2 linked regions of the Homo sapiens genome follow. The protein of the gene in region 1 interacts with the protein of each later gene in a pairwise test. Each region holds a gene or a part of one and is shown in the gene's direction. Other genes may lie near its edges.

Region 1 (7,019 bases):
AGCCAAAGGCAAAGAGCTGCCCTGAGGCAGCGCCCCTCCTCCGCAACCTCAGTCTCAGCCTCTTCAGTCTTACTGTTCATTTGTTTCTCTGCAGGCCAGGTGCTCTCTCACTAATGGCCATCTGCACATCCTTTTCCTCCATCTAGAAAACCTCCCCCTTCACCTGCTGCTGTTACTCTTAACCCTGCGGGTCTCCATTTAATGCCACTTTGGTCAAGTAACCTTCTCTGGGGTCACAGCCCCATGCATCCTGCACACCATTCTCCATAGCGTTCATCACACTTGTAGCTGCTTGATTCTTATCAGAAGATCCATGGGCATAGTTTTAGAAGTAAAATTGTTCTATGAGGATTATAACAGAAAGTGTAGCATTCCCCTGACCCATTTTGGGCATTACTCTAAGGCAGCCATTTTCAAATCCTTTGGTTCATTCTTCTGGTATTATTTTTAATATTTCTTTTTTTTTTTTTTTTGACACACAGTCTTGCTCTGATGCCCAGGCTGGAGTGCGGTGGCACAATCTCGGCTCACTGCAACCTCCACCTCCCGGGTTCAAGCGATTCTCGTGCCTGAGCCTCCTGAGTAGCTGGGATTACAGGTGTGTGCCACCACACCTGGCTAATTTTTGTATTTTTAGTAGAGACGGGGTTTCACCATGTTGGCCAGGCTGGTCTCGAACTCCTGACTTCAGGTGATCCACCCACCTCGGCCTCCCAAAGTGCTGAGATTACAGGCGTGAGCCACCATGCCCAGCCATATTTTTAATAATTCTAAATAACATGTCTACGCTGCTGTTTTGTTAATTTTCAGTTCTGGATATCTCTTCTTACTGCAGAAGATCGAGATTTAGCATATTGTTTTCATAACTTGTGGTTAGACTAATAACATTCAGTGTTTACTCTGTTACAATTCCGTGACTTCACTCACAGCTGAGCAATGTGGTGTTCTATATTACAGTTTCCTTCTCAGACATTTTTCTATTCTACCTGAAGTTCTGTCTCATTTTTTCACATTTTAGTTTCCTCTATCATCACTCATCACTGATTCATCCCTAAAATCTCCTCCAGAAATACATTATCTCAATACATTAAAATATACCAGGGCACTTTATCAATGGGGACGTTGCTTCTGGAATCCTCCGTGGTCCCCTCCCCCGGCCCCTCCCCGGGCTCCCTCTTGAGCAGCATCCCGGGACCCTGGGCTCTCTCCTTGGATTCTGTCTCCCTGGACCTCATGGCGGCCTCCTCCTTGGTTTCTTCCCTCGTAGTGGCGACGCTTCTCTGTCAGTAGCTCCCTGGAGGAGTGCGGAGGAGACCCACACAGAAGCTCACATGTGTAACAATGTCTTTGCTCTTTTCTCACATTTGATTGATAGCTAATAAGGAATCTTGATATGGAAATCTTTCCTTCCTCCGAATTTTGAAGGAATTGTCTTCTCCTGTCTGTTGTGCTGTGGATGAGTCTGATGCAGTTCTGATTCCTGATCCTTTTTTGAGGCCTGTTTTTTTGAGTCTGCTTTCTGTCTCCGAGATTCTCACAGTGACGGGATTCGATGTTCTGAGTACTTACTGGGCCCTCTCAAACCAGAAGCTCATGTCCTTTGCTTCTGGGAGATGTTTTGGACTATTTTCTTTAAAATTTTTACTCCCCATTTTCCATGTTTTCTTTCTAAAATGCCAGTTTTTCAGATGTCACAACAACACCTAGACCGGTCCCTTGATTTTCTTATTTTCTGTCTCCTGATATATGTTTTTCTGTGAGATTACAGTCACGTGCCACATAGCAATGTTTCAATCAACAATAAACCACAGTGCTCCCATAAAATTATAATGGAGTTGAAAAATTCCTACCACTTCATGACGTCTTGATGACTCTGACCCTGTGTTGGCCTAGGCTAATATGTGTGTTTGTGTCTTAGTTTTTAACAAAAAAGTTAAAAAAAAAAGATTTGAGAAATAGAAAAAGCTTATAGAATAAGGATAAGAAAGAAAATATTTTGTATTAACTGAAAAATTAGCTGAGCATGGTATTGTGTGCCTTTGGTCCCAGCTTCTCAGGAGGCTGAGGTGGGAGGATAGCTTGAGCCCAGGAGACACAGCCTGCAGTGAGCCATGACCACATCACTACGTGCTAGCCTGGACAACATACTGTTTTAAGCTAAATGTTATTGTAAAAAATTTAAAAGTTTAGAGAGTAAAAAAGTTATAGGAAGCTAACTTTAATTTATTATTAAAGAAAATATATTTTTATAAATTTAGTGTAGCGTAAGTGTAGACTGTTTATGATGTCTACAGTGGTGTACAGTCATGTCCTAGGCCTTCACACTCACTCAGCACTCACTCACTGACTCACCCAGAGCAACTTCCAGGCCTGCAAGCTCCATTCATGGTGAGTGCCCTACACAGGTACACCATTTTTAATCTTTTATACATATTTTTACTATACCTTTTCCATGTTTGGAAGCACAGATCCTTACCATTGTGTTACAGTTACCTGCAGTATTCAGTACAGTAACATGCTGTGCAGGTGTGTAGTCTAATCAGCTGTACCGTGTAGCTTTGGTGTGTGGTGGGCTGTACCAGCTAAGCATGTATACATATGCTGTGATGTTAGCAAGATGACGAAATCGCCTAACAGCACATTTCTTAACAACAATCGCCTGTTGTTAAGCATCTCAGGACTGTATCTTAGCTTTCTCTTCCAGCCTTTCAGTGGACGTTCACATTTCTACTCTAAAAGCCCAAGAGCTCTTTCTGTACTCGAAAGTGTCCCTTCATAGTTTTCTGTCATGTTTTGTCGATGTAACATTTTGTCTTCCATTTCTGAAGATATCCTTGTAAGTCGATGCTTTTTTATGCATTGACCCGTCTTTGGGGTGCGGGGAGGTGGTGGAAGGTGAACTTCGCTTCCTGCATTTTGCCTGAGGATGTTGCAGTTGCTTTTTCAAAGTGAGTGTTTCCCACCGCACTATCAGCTCGATGCCGAGACAGCACATGGTGGGTACCCACGTGTTATTGAAATAAGAACTTTATTCTGACCGTGATGATACGTCATAGAAAGTTTTTAGCAGGGGAGGTGCAGATTGATGTAGAGGCCACTGGTGGCAGAGCAAGGTGAGCTGGGAGAGGCAGTGCTGAAGGCTGAGGGCTGAGGCAGGTGAGAACTGGGAGAAACTTGGGCCAATACGTGTGAACAATGAGTATTCCTCAGTTTTTCTTTCATAAACTTGGATATCACTCCTGCTTGCCTTATTGAGTTATTGGGAAATGAAATAAGATATGGGAAATGCTTTGTAAATAAAAAATAAACGTATTGAAAATGTCAGGTATTATTACCACTGACTTTTGCGCCCTCATAGAAAAACGGCATCCTATATACAGTCCACCATTTGTATCCGTGGGTTTGGCATCCACAGATTCAACCAGCCACAGATCAAAATTTTAATAAATGAATAAAAAATAACAATACAACAATATAATAAAAATAATACAGATTAAAAACAATATAGTATAACAGCTATTTACATAGCACTTGCATTAGGAATTATTGGTAATCGAGATGACTGGCAGTATACAGGAGGATATGCATGGGTTGTATGCAAATACTCCACCATCTTCTATCAGGGACTTGAGCATCCTTGGAATGTCCTGGAACACATTCCCTGTGGATACCAATGGACAGCTTCTATTGTGAAATAAAGTATGTGATCTATATGTAGTTCTTTAATCTTTGTTTGCAAATGGTGTCATTAAAGTTATAGGTGGGTGCCATATGCTAAAAGACACTCTAACTCCTGTCCTGTGCTGTCTTACTTTAGCACAGAAGTTGGGCCTCATTGGGCCTCCACCACCTCCACTGTCATCAGATGAATGGGAGAAGGTGAAACAGCGCTCTCTCCTGCAAGGGGACTCCGTGCAACCATGCCCCATCTGTAAAGAAGAATTCGAGCTTCGTCCTCAGGTGTTTAGCATACGAGGGTGAGCTAGAGAGCTCCTGGGCTGTTTCCTAGGGACGAGGCCCAGAGCTGGAGCCTAAGATTCCAAGCTTCCTTTTTCCAGTTTCATCCTCCTGTGTGAGCCTCACACACTTCCATTTTGTTTTCCATTAATTAAAGTGTGTGAAGAGCTAAACACCCTCATTAAATAGTTTTGTTTGTTTACTAACTGGTATTCTCAAGTACTAAAGTTTGTACAAAAGGAATGTTTCTGTTCAACAGGCCCCATGCGGCTGTGCAGACAACTGGGGGGCTTCCCAGGAGCAGCTGTGTCCCAGCGCGGGAAGGATGAAAGCAGAGGGACTCTTAAGTGGTTTTGTGATTTGAGTCAGAAAAGAAAAAAAAAACTGTGCTTGAATGTCTCCAAAGAATTTGTGAGAGAATCTTTAAGAAAAGTAAAATCTTTTAATGATTTTTATTCATGAAACTTTACCATAGTAAGACTGATGATACTACTCTGGGTTAACAGATAATATACACGCGCGCGCACACACACACACACACACACACAGAGAGAGAGAGAGAATGCATATATATATATAGAGAGAGAGAGAGAGAATGCATATAGGGTTTTTTCTATACATATTTTGTCTGCCTAACTAAACTATTGTCCCCTGAAGTTGGGGACACTTAGATTTATCAGAAGTGTGTGTGTGCGTGCACGTGCGTGCGTGGTTGCCCTGTAACAATTTCCCACGTGGTGTGGCATTACGCTTCCTGCATAGCAGGCCCTCAGAGATTTGCTGAGAAAACACAGCAAATACAGTTAAAATCAGCCTTGGAGTTTGTAGCCTAGGAACCCAGGCTTATTACAATCTGGGCAAATGAACTCTGAGTCTTCATTGAATTTGAGTAGGTTTCATCAGCAAGAAAGCTCACAACAGTTACACTTCTATTCACTAATTTGAATTCATAAGTTACTTTAGACATACTTATTATATTCCAGTTCTCTATCAGGACCTAATCTTACATATGTGAAAGTTGGGTATTTTGGACAGATTTTAGCCCTGAAACCACAAATTGTCTAGGATAATTTAGTAATTTAATGTAGCAAAACTGTGAATAAAGCCAGAGGGTGTCTTTCTGGCTAAGCACCCTCTTTCTTACTTATACTAAAATATCCAACCCGAGTGTCTGTATGAAGAATGAAAAGTGAAAGTTACTATCTTATGGGGATCAGGGTGTACCCTGCCCAACATTTCTTTCTGATTTTTATAAATTTCTCACTAAATTCCATTATTTTTACTTGGTTTTGATATAAGACCCATCCTGTATATTTTGCATTTCCAGTGATCATTTCCATGTTCAGATTTTTCCTTAGTTATAAACAATAGTTGGCATTTTTATAACATTTAGTGATTTCAGAGGGCCTTCAATTAATTCCGTATAGTAGGCATTCTGCCCATTTAGCAGATGAGGGAATAAAAACAATTCAAATGACTCATAGTAGGCCGACGCAGAAAGTATCAGAGTCCTGCTGGAATCCAATCCTAACTTCTAGGCCATTTTTAGTGTGTTTTCCACTACTTAATCCTTGATTTTTGTTACATCAGAGAATGTTTGCCAATAACAAATATTTGGGGACACTTAAAAAGATAACACTTTAATATACTGACGTCTAATGTTGCTCCATATAGATAGAATATATGTTGATAAAACACTGAAAAGTATTCTATAAAGAATGAATTAAGTATAGAAAAGATTGCTATTAAATGGTGGTAATGAAAAAGGACCCTATTACTGAGTTTATTCAATTCAGACTTACTCTTGGCAATAAGTTTCAAGAAAAGGTTTTACAACTTTCTGAGTTCTAGTTATTTCTGTATTTCTTCCATTTAAGAAGAAAAGCATACATTGAGTGAAGGCAGGTGGGATTCACTTTAAAAACTGTTAAGTTTTCCCCACAGCAGGCATCCTGGGCCGGCTGAGATTGAAACCTCACCCAGGAGTGCCCCAGACTGTGGTCACCCAAGTCAGATTCTTGACAAAAAGGGAAAACCCTTCGCCTGACCCCACCGCTTTGCTCAGTCTCACAAGTTTCCCCTGCTTTCCTCCCCGTTGCTGAAAGCAGCCCCTCCCAAGGGAAGCAGGAGCCTGGCCTTTGTGTGGCAGCCCGCAGGGCCTGGCGCTGGTGGGCTGGCGGCTGTCCCTTCTACTAAGTACCCACTGCCTTCTTCTTCATTTGGTCTAAGCTTCAGTCTTTTGTCACAGCCCAGTATATCACTGTTTAGTGGGGAATTTGGGTCACAGAAAGGTGAAGTTTTCTTGTGAGCACACTTTCCCTGCATTTAAAAAAGAAAAAAGACTCCATGATTTGTTGCTATTTAAATTTAAGACTGTCAGAATTATATCTCAGTAGAGCTATGATTTCACAAAAATTGGGGGGCATAACTGAGCTGAACAAAGACCTAAATGGTATTTACTTAGCGTTTCCCTGGCCCCACTGGACAGGCCCCCCTCCTCACCCCTCCAGTTTGCAGTCACTGCCCGCATCTAAGGGAAACTTTCATTTTGTCATTGTTTCGCTCTTAAGTATACACTCATTTTAATAGTTAAATATCAAACTTCATGTGTTTATTTGATATTTCAGATCATGAATTTTTGTTATTTAGAGTATATACTTGTGCTGTGCTAAACAAACAATAAATAGTATAAATATCAAAGTTATTAATTTGCTTTTTTAAAGAAATAATACAGCTTACCTTCTAAGCATTCAGGATTTTAACTGTTGGATACATGCTGCTTCTCTTTTGTAAACTTCAACGTCGTTCTGTTTCCTCATGAACAGGTGCTGCTTTCATGCTCCCATGTGTTCCACAAAGTAAGTCCACCCCTCACGCCTGCCCAGGTGCTGCACATGTCGCTCTCACAGTGCAGAGAAACCATAGTCATTTTCAAGGCTCCTAAGGAGAGCCATTTATTTTATTCATCACCACCATCTATAGTTAAAGAAACATGACTGTAGGCTGCAGTACAATTCATCCTATTTTGAAAATCATGAGTTTTGTGACAAAAGAACCACAAA
Region 2 (7,979 bases), on another chromosome or scaffold:
ACCAAGGGGGTCTCTGGGGGATGAATGTAGAGGGAATGTATCTCAGGGAGAAGGCTTCCTTTGGGGTGTTTCTTGACTGAGGGTTCTACCCCTGAGAATATCTCTCCTCTGGGGTGTCTCTTTTTATAGTGGTCTCTCGGCAGCTTGGCTCCCATGGGGGCACCAGGAGGCTCCGCCCCCCCGCCCGCCCCTTCCCCCCGCCAGCGCGGGCAGCGGTGGCTGAGCCCGGGCTCGGGCGCCCAGACGCAGTGACGGCGCCGGGCCCGCCCCACTTCGCTCCGCCCCCGCCCCCGCCACCCCTCCCCTCAGCCGCCGCCGCCGCCGCCGCCGCGGTCCCCGCGGCTTCTCACTCCCTCCCTCCTCCCTCCTCCCGCCGCCGCTACCTCCCTCCTCCCTCCCCGGGCCGAAGTCGCCGCCGCTGCCGCCATGGACGATTCGGGCCTCATCCGCCGCCGGAGGCTGCAGGTACGCGGCTGCCTGGGCCCCGGGTGGAGAGGAAGGGGTCGGCGCCCTGGGGCGGGGCTGGGCAGGAGGCGGGAGAACTTGCACTAGGGTCAGCCGGGACGCCCCCACCCATAGGTTCGGGACGCTAACCGCGGGGAACGCTGTGGCCGCGCGTCCCGCCGCGCTGGGGACCCCGCCCCTCAGGCGCCGCCCGGCGATCCAGGGAGCTGCCGGAGGGGTGCAGCCTAGCGCTCCCCCTCGAGGATCGCCTGAGGGGCGCCTGGCCCGCCCTAGGGGGATGGGGCTGGGGCCGAAGTCATCGCCCTGGCGCCTCGCCAGGCTAGGGGTGAGGGGGCGCAGAGCAAAGTTATTGCCCTAGGGCTCATGCCCCTCGGGGCCATCGGCGCCGCTGGAGGCGTAAACATGTTTGTGCGGCAACCTCGCCCCTCACCACCCCAGGAGCCCCCTCCCGAGGCATAGGACGCCCTGCGTCCCCCACGCACCTGCCTGGCCATCAGGATTCTTCCTACTGCCCTAATTGGACAGGCACCTAGACAGCTTTCTCACTCTTCATTCCACCTCCTCCACTACAACATCCGCCCCCCCACCGCGATCCTCAAGTCCAGCCCAGCTTGTGGGTGGGCGGGAGCGATTTTTAGCTCCTTGCAGCCTTAGAAGATGCTGGTCTCGAGGCTGCGCAGGCGCAGGAGCCGTGCGTCCACTGCACGGAGTGGGACACTGAGGATCGCTGTGGAGTGTGGGGAAGGCGGGGACAAACTCAGGTGTCAGGAGCTCCTACCTCCAAGGTGGGGAGGGATTCTGTAGCCGAGAAGCGTCCTCTGCTCGTCTTCAGCTGCGTTTCTGAGGGGTTAGTACGGAAGTTCAGGGTTAATACGGAGGTCCGGTCCCAAACATCCCAGAGGGGAAGGTGATGATATCTGTGCCCCAAGGCCCTGCCTGGGGTCTGGCCCTTCTGAGCCTCCTTGGGGCTCAGCCCCAGGCTTGGTAATCTGGAGTTTAGATAAAGCCGAGAATGGGCCCAGACTCAGGCTCCATCCCCAGCCTGAATCTTGGGAAAAGAGGATTCAAACCCTCACCTAGGGCTTCGTCCATTTCTAGACTCCCCTAATCCATCATTCCCGAGGTTGAAGGCCAAGGGGAGCTGATTGGTCAGTGCAGCAGGAAAAATGGTGATCAGACTGCAGGAAGGACCTTCCAGGCGTCTGGGTAACGCCGGAGCCAGACATGAGTTGGAAAACTAATTTGCTTTCAGAGCCCAGATGGCCCGATCTCCGGAGCCTAGGCCTCTCTGAAGTGCTCCCACATTCTCTCCGCCTCTCGGGGGTGGGTTAGGAGAGTGGGTTCCGAGAGAAGGGAGGCAGCTGCGGCAAAGTTAGAGCAAGTACTGCAGCAGCCAGGTTGGGTCCGCGCCGTCGGGTTTCTGAGAAAAGGGAGGAAAGAGGCGGGGCCTGCACGGTGTGTCCCCGCCCTCCAGGCCGGCGTCAACTCTCATTGGCTCAGCGCCACGCGGGACTTTAAACTCCCGCTCGAGACACCGCCCCCAACGCGGAATGCTTCCACTCACCCACCCACCCACTCAACCCCAGGCTTGCTCTGGGTCCGGCGATCCCTGTCGGAGTCCTGTCCCCACCGCTTCCCTTCTGGCGGGATTAACCACTTCGCTGCCTGGATACACCCACATACGTTGGTGCATCCTCTTAGGAACTGTCGCATCACTGCTGAGCGCCCGAGGGTCCCCTGTGTGCAGCTAGGCTCTTTTTTTTTTTTTTTTTTTTGAAACGGAGTCTCGCTCTGTTGCCCAGGCTGGAGTGCAGTGACGCAATCTCGGCTCACTGCAACCTCCGCCTCCCGGGTTTAAGAGATTCTTCTGCCTCAGCCTCGCTAGTAGCTGGGATTACAGGCTCATGCCAACATGCCCGGCTAGTTTTGTATTTTTAGTAGAGAGTGGGTTTCACCATGTTGGCCAGCCTGGTCTTGAACTTCTGACCTCAGGTGATCCACCCGCCTCGGCCTCCCAAAGCGCTGGAATTACAGGCGTGAGCCACCACGCCCTGGGATCTTATATGTAGACAGCATCCTGAGTTCGAATGCCCTGTCTGCAGTGTCAACTATTAATCCTGTGCGGGAGAAGCGGAATCCACTTGGCCGAGCGGCTCTGCAGCTGAGATTGGAGGTGGCGTCTGTTTACACTGACGCCAAAGACCCGAACTTCCGCCGCTCCAGTTTGACCCTTTCTTCGTCCCTAGAATGTTTGGGGGCGCTAGCGGGTGGGGCTGGGTTCCAGGTCTTCTTCGGGTGGTGCTTAAAAGCCCTCCAGGGGCTTACCCTCCAAGGCCGGTTACCCGGATCTGGACACCCTGGGCTCTGTGGCCAGAAAATCCAGGTCTTGATTTCGCTTGGGCCATTGCAGACACGCAGCCAGGTCGACTGGTCCTCATTCACTCCGGTCATGCAAAGACAGAGGGAAAACCTGGTTTGGATTATCGGTCACCCGTGGCTCGGGAGGGCAGGGCTGCCCTTTGGCCCCGCCTATATGTTTGTCCGTTGTACAACGGGGTGGGAGGACGCTGTGGCCCATCCTCTGTCATGCAGCATGTCCCTCCTTAATAACGCCTGTTCTCCAGACTTAGTATTTATTGAGCACTTGCTATGTGCTAGGCACCATGCTAAGGGGCTAGGCATCTGCATCAACTCCTAAGATCCTCAAGGAGACACGGGACTATTGGAAGGTCATTTGCCAAGGTCATAAAAAGCAGAATTGAGATTTGAACCTAGGCTTTTTGCTTTTAGAGATCCTAGAAATGTCTAGGACATCCCTCATTTTCCTTTTGTTGGAGTCCCCTCCAAAGGCCTTTTGAAACTCTCCCCCAAATCTTTCCACCTGCAGCCCCACTCAGTTTCCTTCCTTCCACCTCACCCTGTGGATAGAAAACTGGCTGGCAGGTGTTGCCCCTTGTACCCCATTCCTTTCCTCAGAAAAAAGCCAAGACCCCATATCTCCTGATCCCTACAGTGACTTCCTAAGAGCTTGACAAATGGAAGGTGACCTTCTTCAAATGCAGACACATAAAGTTAATACTCACTAATTATTATTATTGTCATTATAAAAAATGACTATGCGGCCATCACCTGAATTTCCATTTTTATTTTTTTATTTTTTAAACTTTTTATTATTTATTTATTTATTGTTAATTGAGAGGGTGTCTTACTCCAGCAGTGGTGCAATCATAGTTCACTATAACCTCGACCTCCTGAGCTCAAGAGATTCTCCCACCTCAGCCTCCGTGGTTCCCATTTTAAATCTCAGTTGTGAGTCACTCTACTTACCTACCCCCCACCCCCTACCCCAACTCTATGACTCTAGCTGGGAGTCAGATAGATCTGCTGAGGTGTAGATGAGTCATTCATTCTTTCAACCTTTCATTCATTCAACCTTTCATTCATTCATTGAGTACGCTAAGCTTATTCCCGCCTCCAGGCCTTTGCCCTTGCAGTTCCCTCCACCTGGAATGCTCTCTCCACAGATCCTCCCATGGCTGGCTCTTATCTTTCAGCAACCAGCTTAAAAGTCACCTCCACAGAGCAGCCCTGTCTGACAATGTGTCTCCATCCTAGCCATTGTCCATCACATCACCCTGTTTAATTTATTCATAAGACTAATTATTGTCTAAAATGATTTCGTTCACTTCTACACTAATCTTGTTTAATGTCCCCTTTACCCTATAAATACTAGTCCCAAAAGGCCAGAAACTTTTTTTTTTTTCTCCTTGAGACAGAGAGTCTTGCTGTGTTGCCCACGCTGGTGTTTCCTTGGACTCAAGCGATTCTCCTGCCTCAACCTCCCAAGTAGCTGGGACTAGAGGTGCACACCACCACACCGGACTTGTAATTTATTCACTACTGTGTCCCTAGTGCCTAGGATTGGGTCAGCATACAGTAGGTGCTCAAGACATATTTTTCAAATAATGATTCCTATTTCATTTGCACAAACACACGCTGATATGCCAACTCACTTGCCTTTATATGGCGCCCCGCCTGTGTACGTGGGCCTCTGTTGGTCTCTGAGGGTCAGGAGAGGAATCACCCAGGGATCCTCTCCCCCAAGAAACTTGGCCCGCAGTGCATGGCCAAGGGTGAAAGTGACAGTGCTGAAGAGGGGCCTGTCTTACCCTGCTTCTGCTCCTCCAGGGAGTTGATAATGCTTGTGGGCAGCAACGGCAGGTCCACGCTGACCTTCATCGTTTTGCCCCTTTGCCTTCCAGAAGGATTTGCCCCTGCCCCGGAAAAGCAGCAGGTGAGCCTGGGGAGAGACGTGGCGGGGGCTGGCCGCCCCTTCTCCCGCCGGGGTGGGGGCGCCAGGCGAGTGCGCGGGCGGGGCCTGGCTCGCCGGCACGCAGCAGCGCCCCCTCCCGGCCGGCTGCAGCCGCAGGGCCCTCCCCTTCCCTGCCCTCCCCTGCCCGCTGCGGCGGCTGCAGCCTCCGCCCCGCGCGCTTGCTCCCCGCGCCGCCGCCGCCGCCGCCTCCGCCGCTGCTGCCGCACCTGCCACCATGTCGCCGCCGCCGGGTCATGTCTGACTCTCTCTGGACCGCGCTTTCTAATTTCTCGATGCCCTCCTTCCCCGGCGGCAGTATGTTCCGCCGCACCAAGAGGTAGACCCCCGATCCCCTAGACATTGTCCCGGCCCTCCCCGCAAAAGCCGCCGCTCCGGGTACTGCTGCAGGGCGGGGCCCGGGATGCTGCGCCCGGTCCAGCTGCGCCAGAGGTGCCCCAGCTGCGCCTTCCCGCCGGGGTTGGGGTTGAATGGGGGGTGGTGTGGGCCGAGTCTGGGGGGCTTGCACGCTGGAGAGGACGGCCGCGGGGGGAGGGGGCTGCGCCACTGGGGGTTTGTGGCGCCTTTGTCTGCTGGCGCTGCGGGCTCCAACAGCCTGGTGGGGGTAGAGGAAGAAGGGGAGGCTGGGGGGCTTGGCACCCTCAGAACAATAGCCGCAGCCTGGCCTCCCCCCACCCCCATGCCGCGTGCTCCTGGACGCGCTAATATGCTCAGTCACTGCGGCTGTGGGTGAGGGGACGGACGGAGGGGCTTGGGGCTCCCTCTTCGGGAGCTGGATGCTGAGGGGTAGAAAAAAGGGGGGGTTTATCATAACACAACCCCCCCCCCCGAACACAGCCTTACACTGAAAATAGTGACACACAGCGTCACACAGGACATGATGTCACACACATACACACAACAGCCCTAGTGGCCCAGATACACTGGGAGGTGCCACACATACCTAGCCTTGCAGCTGCCACAGGTCAGAACCATGCACAGACACACAGGGGCACCACGTCGTGTACACCTAGTAAGATGTCACTTACATGGCGATCCACACACACACAGTTATGTCATCCAAGATGCAAACATGTGTTTCAATATCCCATCCATGCATCCAAGAATGTCACAACACACGATGTCATATCTAGGTATCTCACATACTATGTCACACTGACATCAGGATAAACAGATGTAGGGATCTTGCAGAGACAGAACCACGCAAAATCACATGTTATCACATTGCAAGACTCACCTAGAGAATGTCAAATGTGGTGACATGTTTGGACACAGTGTCACAAGATGTTAAATTCACACAATAGATGCTACATACACATGGACAAGCATGGTGAATGTCACACCCAGACGGAAGGACAGTATCGGACACAGACTCAGAATGCCACACAAAGACATAGATACATGTAGGGGGGATCATGCATCCTGGCCAGGCATGGTGGCAGGCACCTGTAGTCCCAGCTACTCAGGAGGGTGAGGTGAGGCGGGAGGATTGCTTGAGCCCAGGAGTTTGAGGCTGCAGTGAGCCACTGCACACTGCACTCCAGCCGGGCGACAGAGCGAGACATTGATTTAAAAGAAAAAAAATAATAATAATACAACCTGCCTGTGTTACAGCACACATTGTTATGGACAAGTGGCATTTCACACTGTGTCACATAGACACACAAATGCTCAAATTGTATCACACAAGATAAACCCACGTTGTGTCACACGTATCACACTAGAATGCATTCAGCGTCACACATTGTTGAATTCATACAGTGGATACCACACGTGGATACCTACAGTGAATGTCACGCATAGACTGAGACACGCTCAGTATCACCAATGGTGTCACCTAGACACAGTGACTATCACACCATGACAGACACTGCCCTACACATAATCCATACTGAGAGTTTCTCACACACATGTCATATGCACATCCCCTGCCGTACACAGTCCTGCCGAGGCCTGCACCACCTTTCTTCGAGAAACCCTCCCAGGGAGCCTCCAAACACACATGGATGGGAGATAGGCGGGGATCTGAGACAGGAGGTCAGCTGGTGGGGCTCAAGAACTCACTGGGCTGCGGCCCGGCCCGGCCCCCCTGCCTTACCTTCCCCGCAGCTGCCGCACCAGTAATCGGAAAAGCCTCATCCTGACCAGCACTTCACCCACGCTACCGAGACCCCACTCCCCGCTGCCAGGTCACCTAGGTGAGGCCAGTGGTAGAGACTTGGTGGGTGCAGACTGGCCTACAGTAGGCGGGGCCTCAGGCGAGGAAGCGTGGTCATGCTACAGAAGGGGCGCAGTTTGAATGGAGGCGAACCAGTTTGGATAAGGGGCGGGGCCATGCTTGTGTGGGTGTGGTCAGTCGCAGAGGGACGGTCATTGGGGGGCGGAGACTCAGGTGGGCGGAGACTCAGGTGGGACGGACAGAAAGGAGGAGTCGTACCTGAGGGGCGGGGCCATCCCAGATGAAGCCAGAATCGTCTTGGAAGGGGCCAGGCTGACTCGGCAACGAAAAAATTTAGAGAGGCGGGGCCACAGGCGAAGGGGCGTGGTCTCCCCATAATAGGCGGGACTAGACTAAAGACAGGACATGCTGCTGTTTGCACGCCGCTTTAGGGAACGAGAGACCTGACAGGATTTGCCCCCTCTTTCTCTCATAGGCAGCAGTCCCCTGGACAGCCCCCGAAACTTCTCCCCCAACACCCCCGCCCACTTCTCGTTTGCCTCCTCCCGAAGGTGAGTCCCTCCCCTCCAGGGCCCCAGAACCCTGGGCAGACCCTCCCCAACCACTGTCTGGGCCGCCATCTGTTCTCCTCCTAATTGCACCCGAGCTGGGGCCTGAGGGGACCAGCGAGTGCCCCAAGGTCTCAGCGGGAAGGAGCGCCTAGCCTTCGGGGCGGGGCCTATAAGAAGGCGGGGTCCAATCGCCGATCTGGAACGGGGAAGGCGGTGGGGCTCCCTTTGCGGCAGGTCGAAAGCGCGTGCGCCCTGGGCGCGGGGTCTTAGTCTCTCCGAGCCTTGCTCTCCTGGCCAGGTGTTTCCATAGCAACAGGACGGGGCAGCCAAGATGACGTGCGCAAGCGCAGATTGCGCGATGCCTATCGAGGGACTCTTGGTCCCCGAGGTGGGGGAGGACGACTAGGGCTGTTTCTCAAGGGGAGGAATCTCAGGTTTCTTTCCAAGGGTCTCT

What was found. Proteins that work in one complex are often made in the same cells at the same time.
Region 2: the proteins of RNF32 (region 1) and MAST1 interact in a two-hybrid assay, tested with the Homo sapiens proteins (one study listed by BioGRID).

What each region holds. Positions count from the first base shown.
Region 1 is NC_000007.14:156,650,759-156,657,777, forward strand, and holds part of RNF32 (RING finger protein 32), read left to right. Parts: intron 1-3,426; exon of another isoform or gene 3,427-3,817; coding exon 3,818-3,960; coding exon of another isoform or gene 3,961-3,977; intron 3,978-4,379; exon of another isoform or gene 4,380-6,276; intron 6,277-6,696; exon of another isoform or gene 6,697-6,782; coding exon 6,783-6,815; exon of another isoform or gene 6,816-6,933; intron 6,934-7,019. UniProt on the Homo sapiens protein: May play a role in sperm formation.
Region 2 is NC_000019.10:12,833,542-12,841,520, forward strand, and holds the start of MAST1 (microtubule-associated serine/threonine-protein kinase 1), read left to right. Parts: upstream 1-4,973; 5' UTR 4,974-5,031; coding exon 5,032-5,114; intron 5,115-6,904; coding exon 6,905-6,993; intron 6,994-7,449; coding exon 7,450-7,525; intron 7,526-7,979. Other genes in the region: RTBDN (retbindin), read right to left, coding at 1,244-1,305, 1,542-1,557. UniProt on the Homo sapiens protein: Microtubule-associated protein essential for correct brain development. Appears to link the dystrophin/utrophin network with microtubule filaments via the syntrophins. Phosphorylation of DMD or UTRN may modulate their affinities for associated proteins.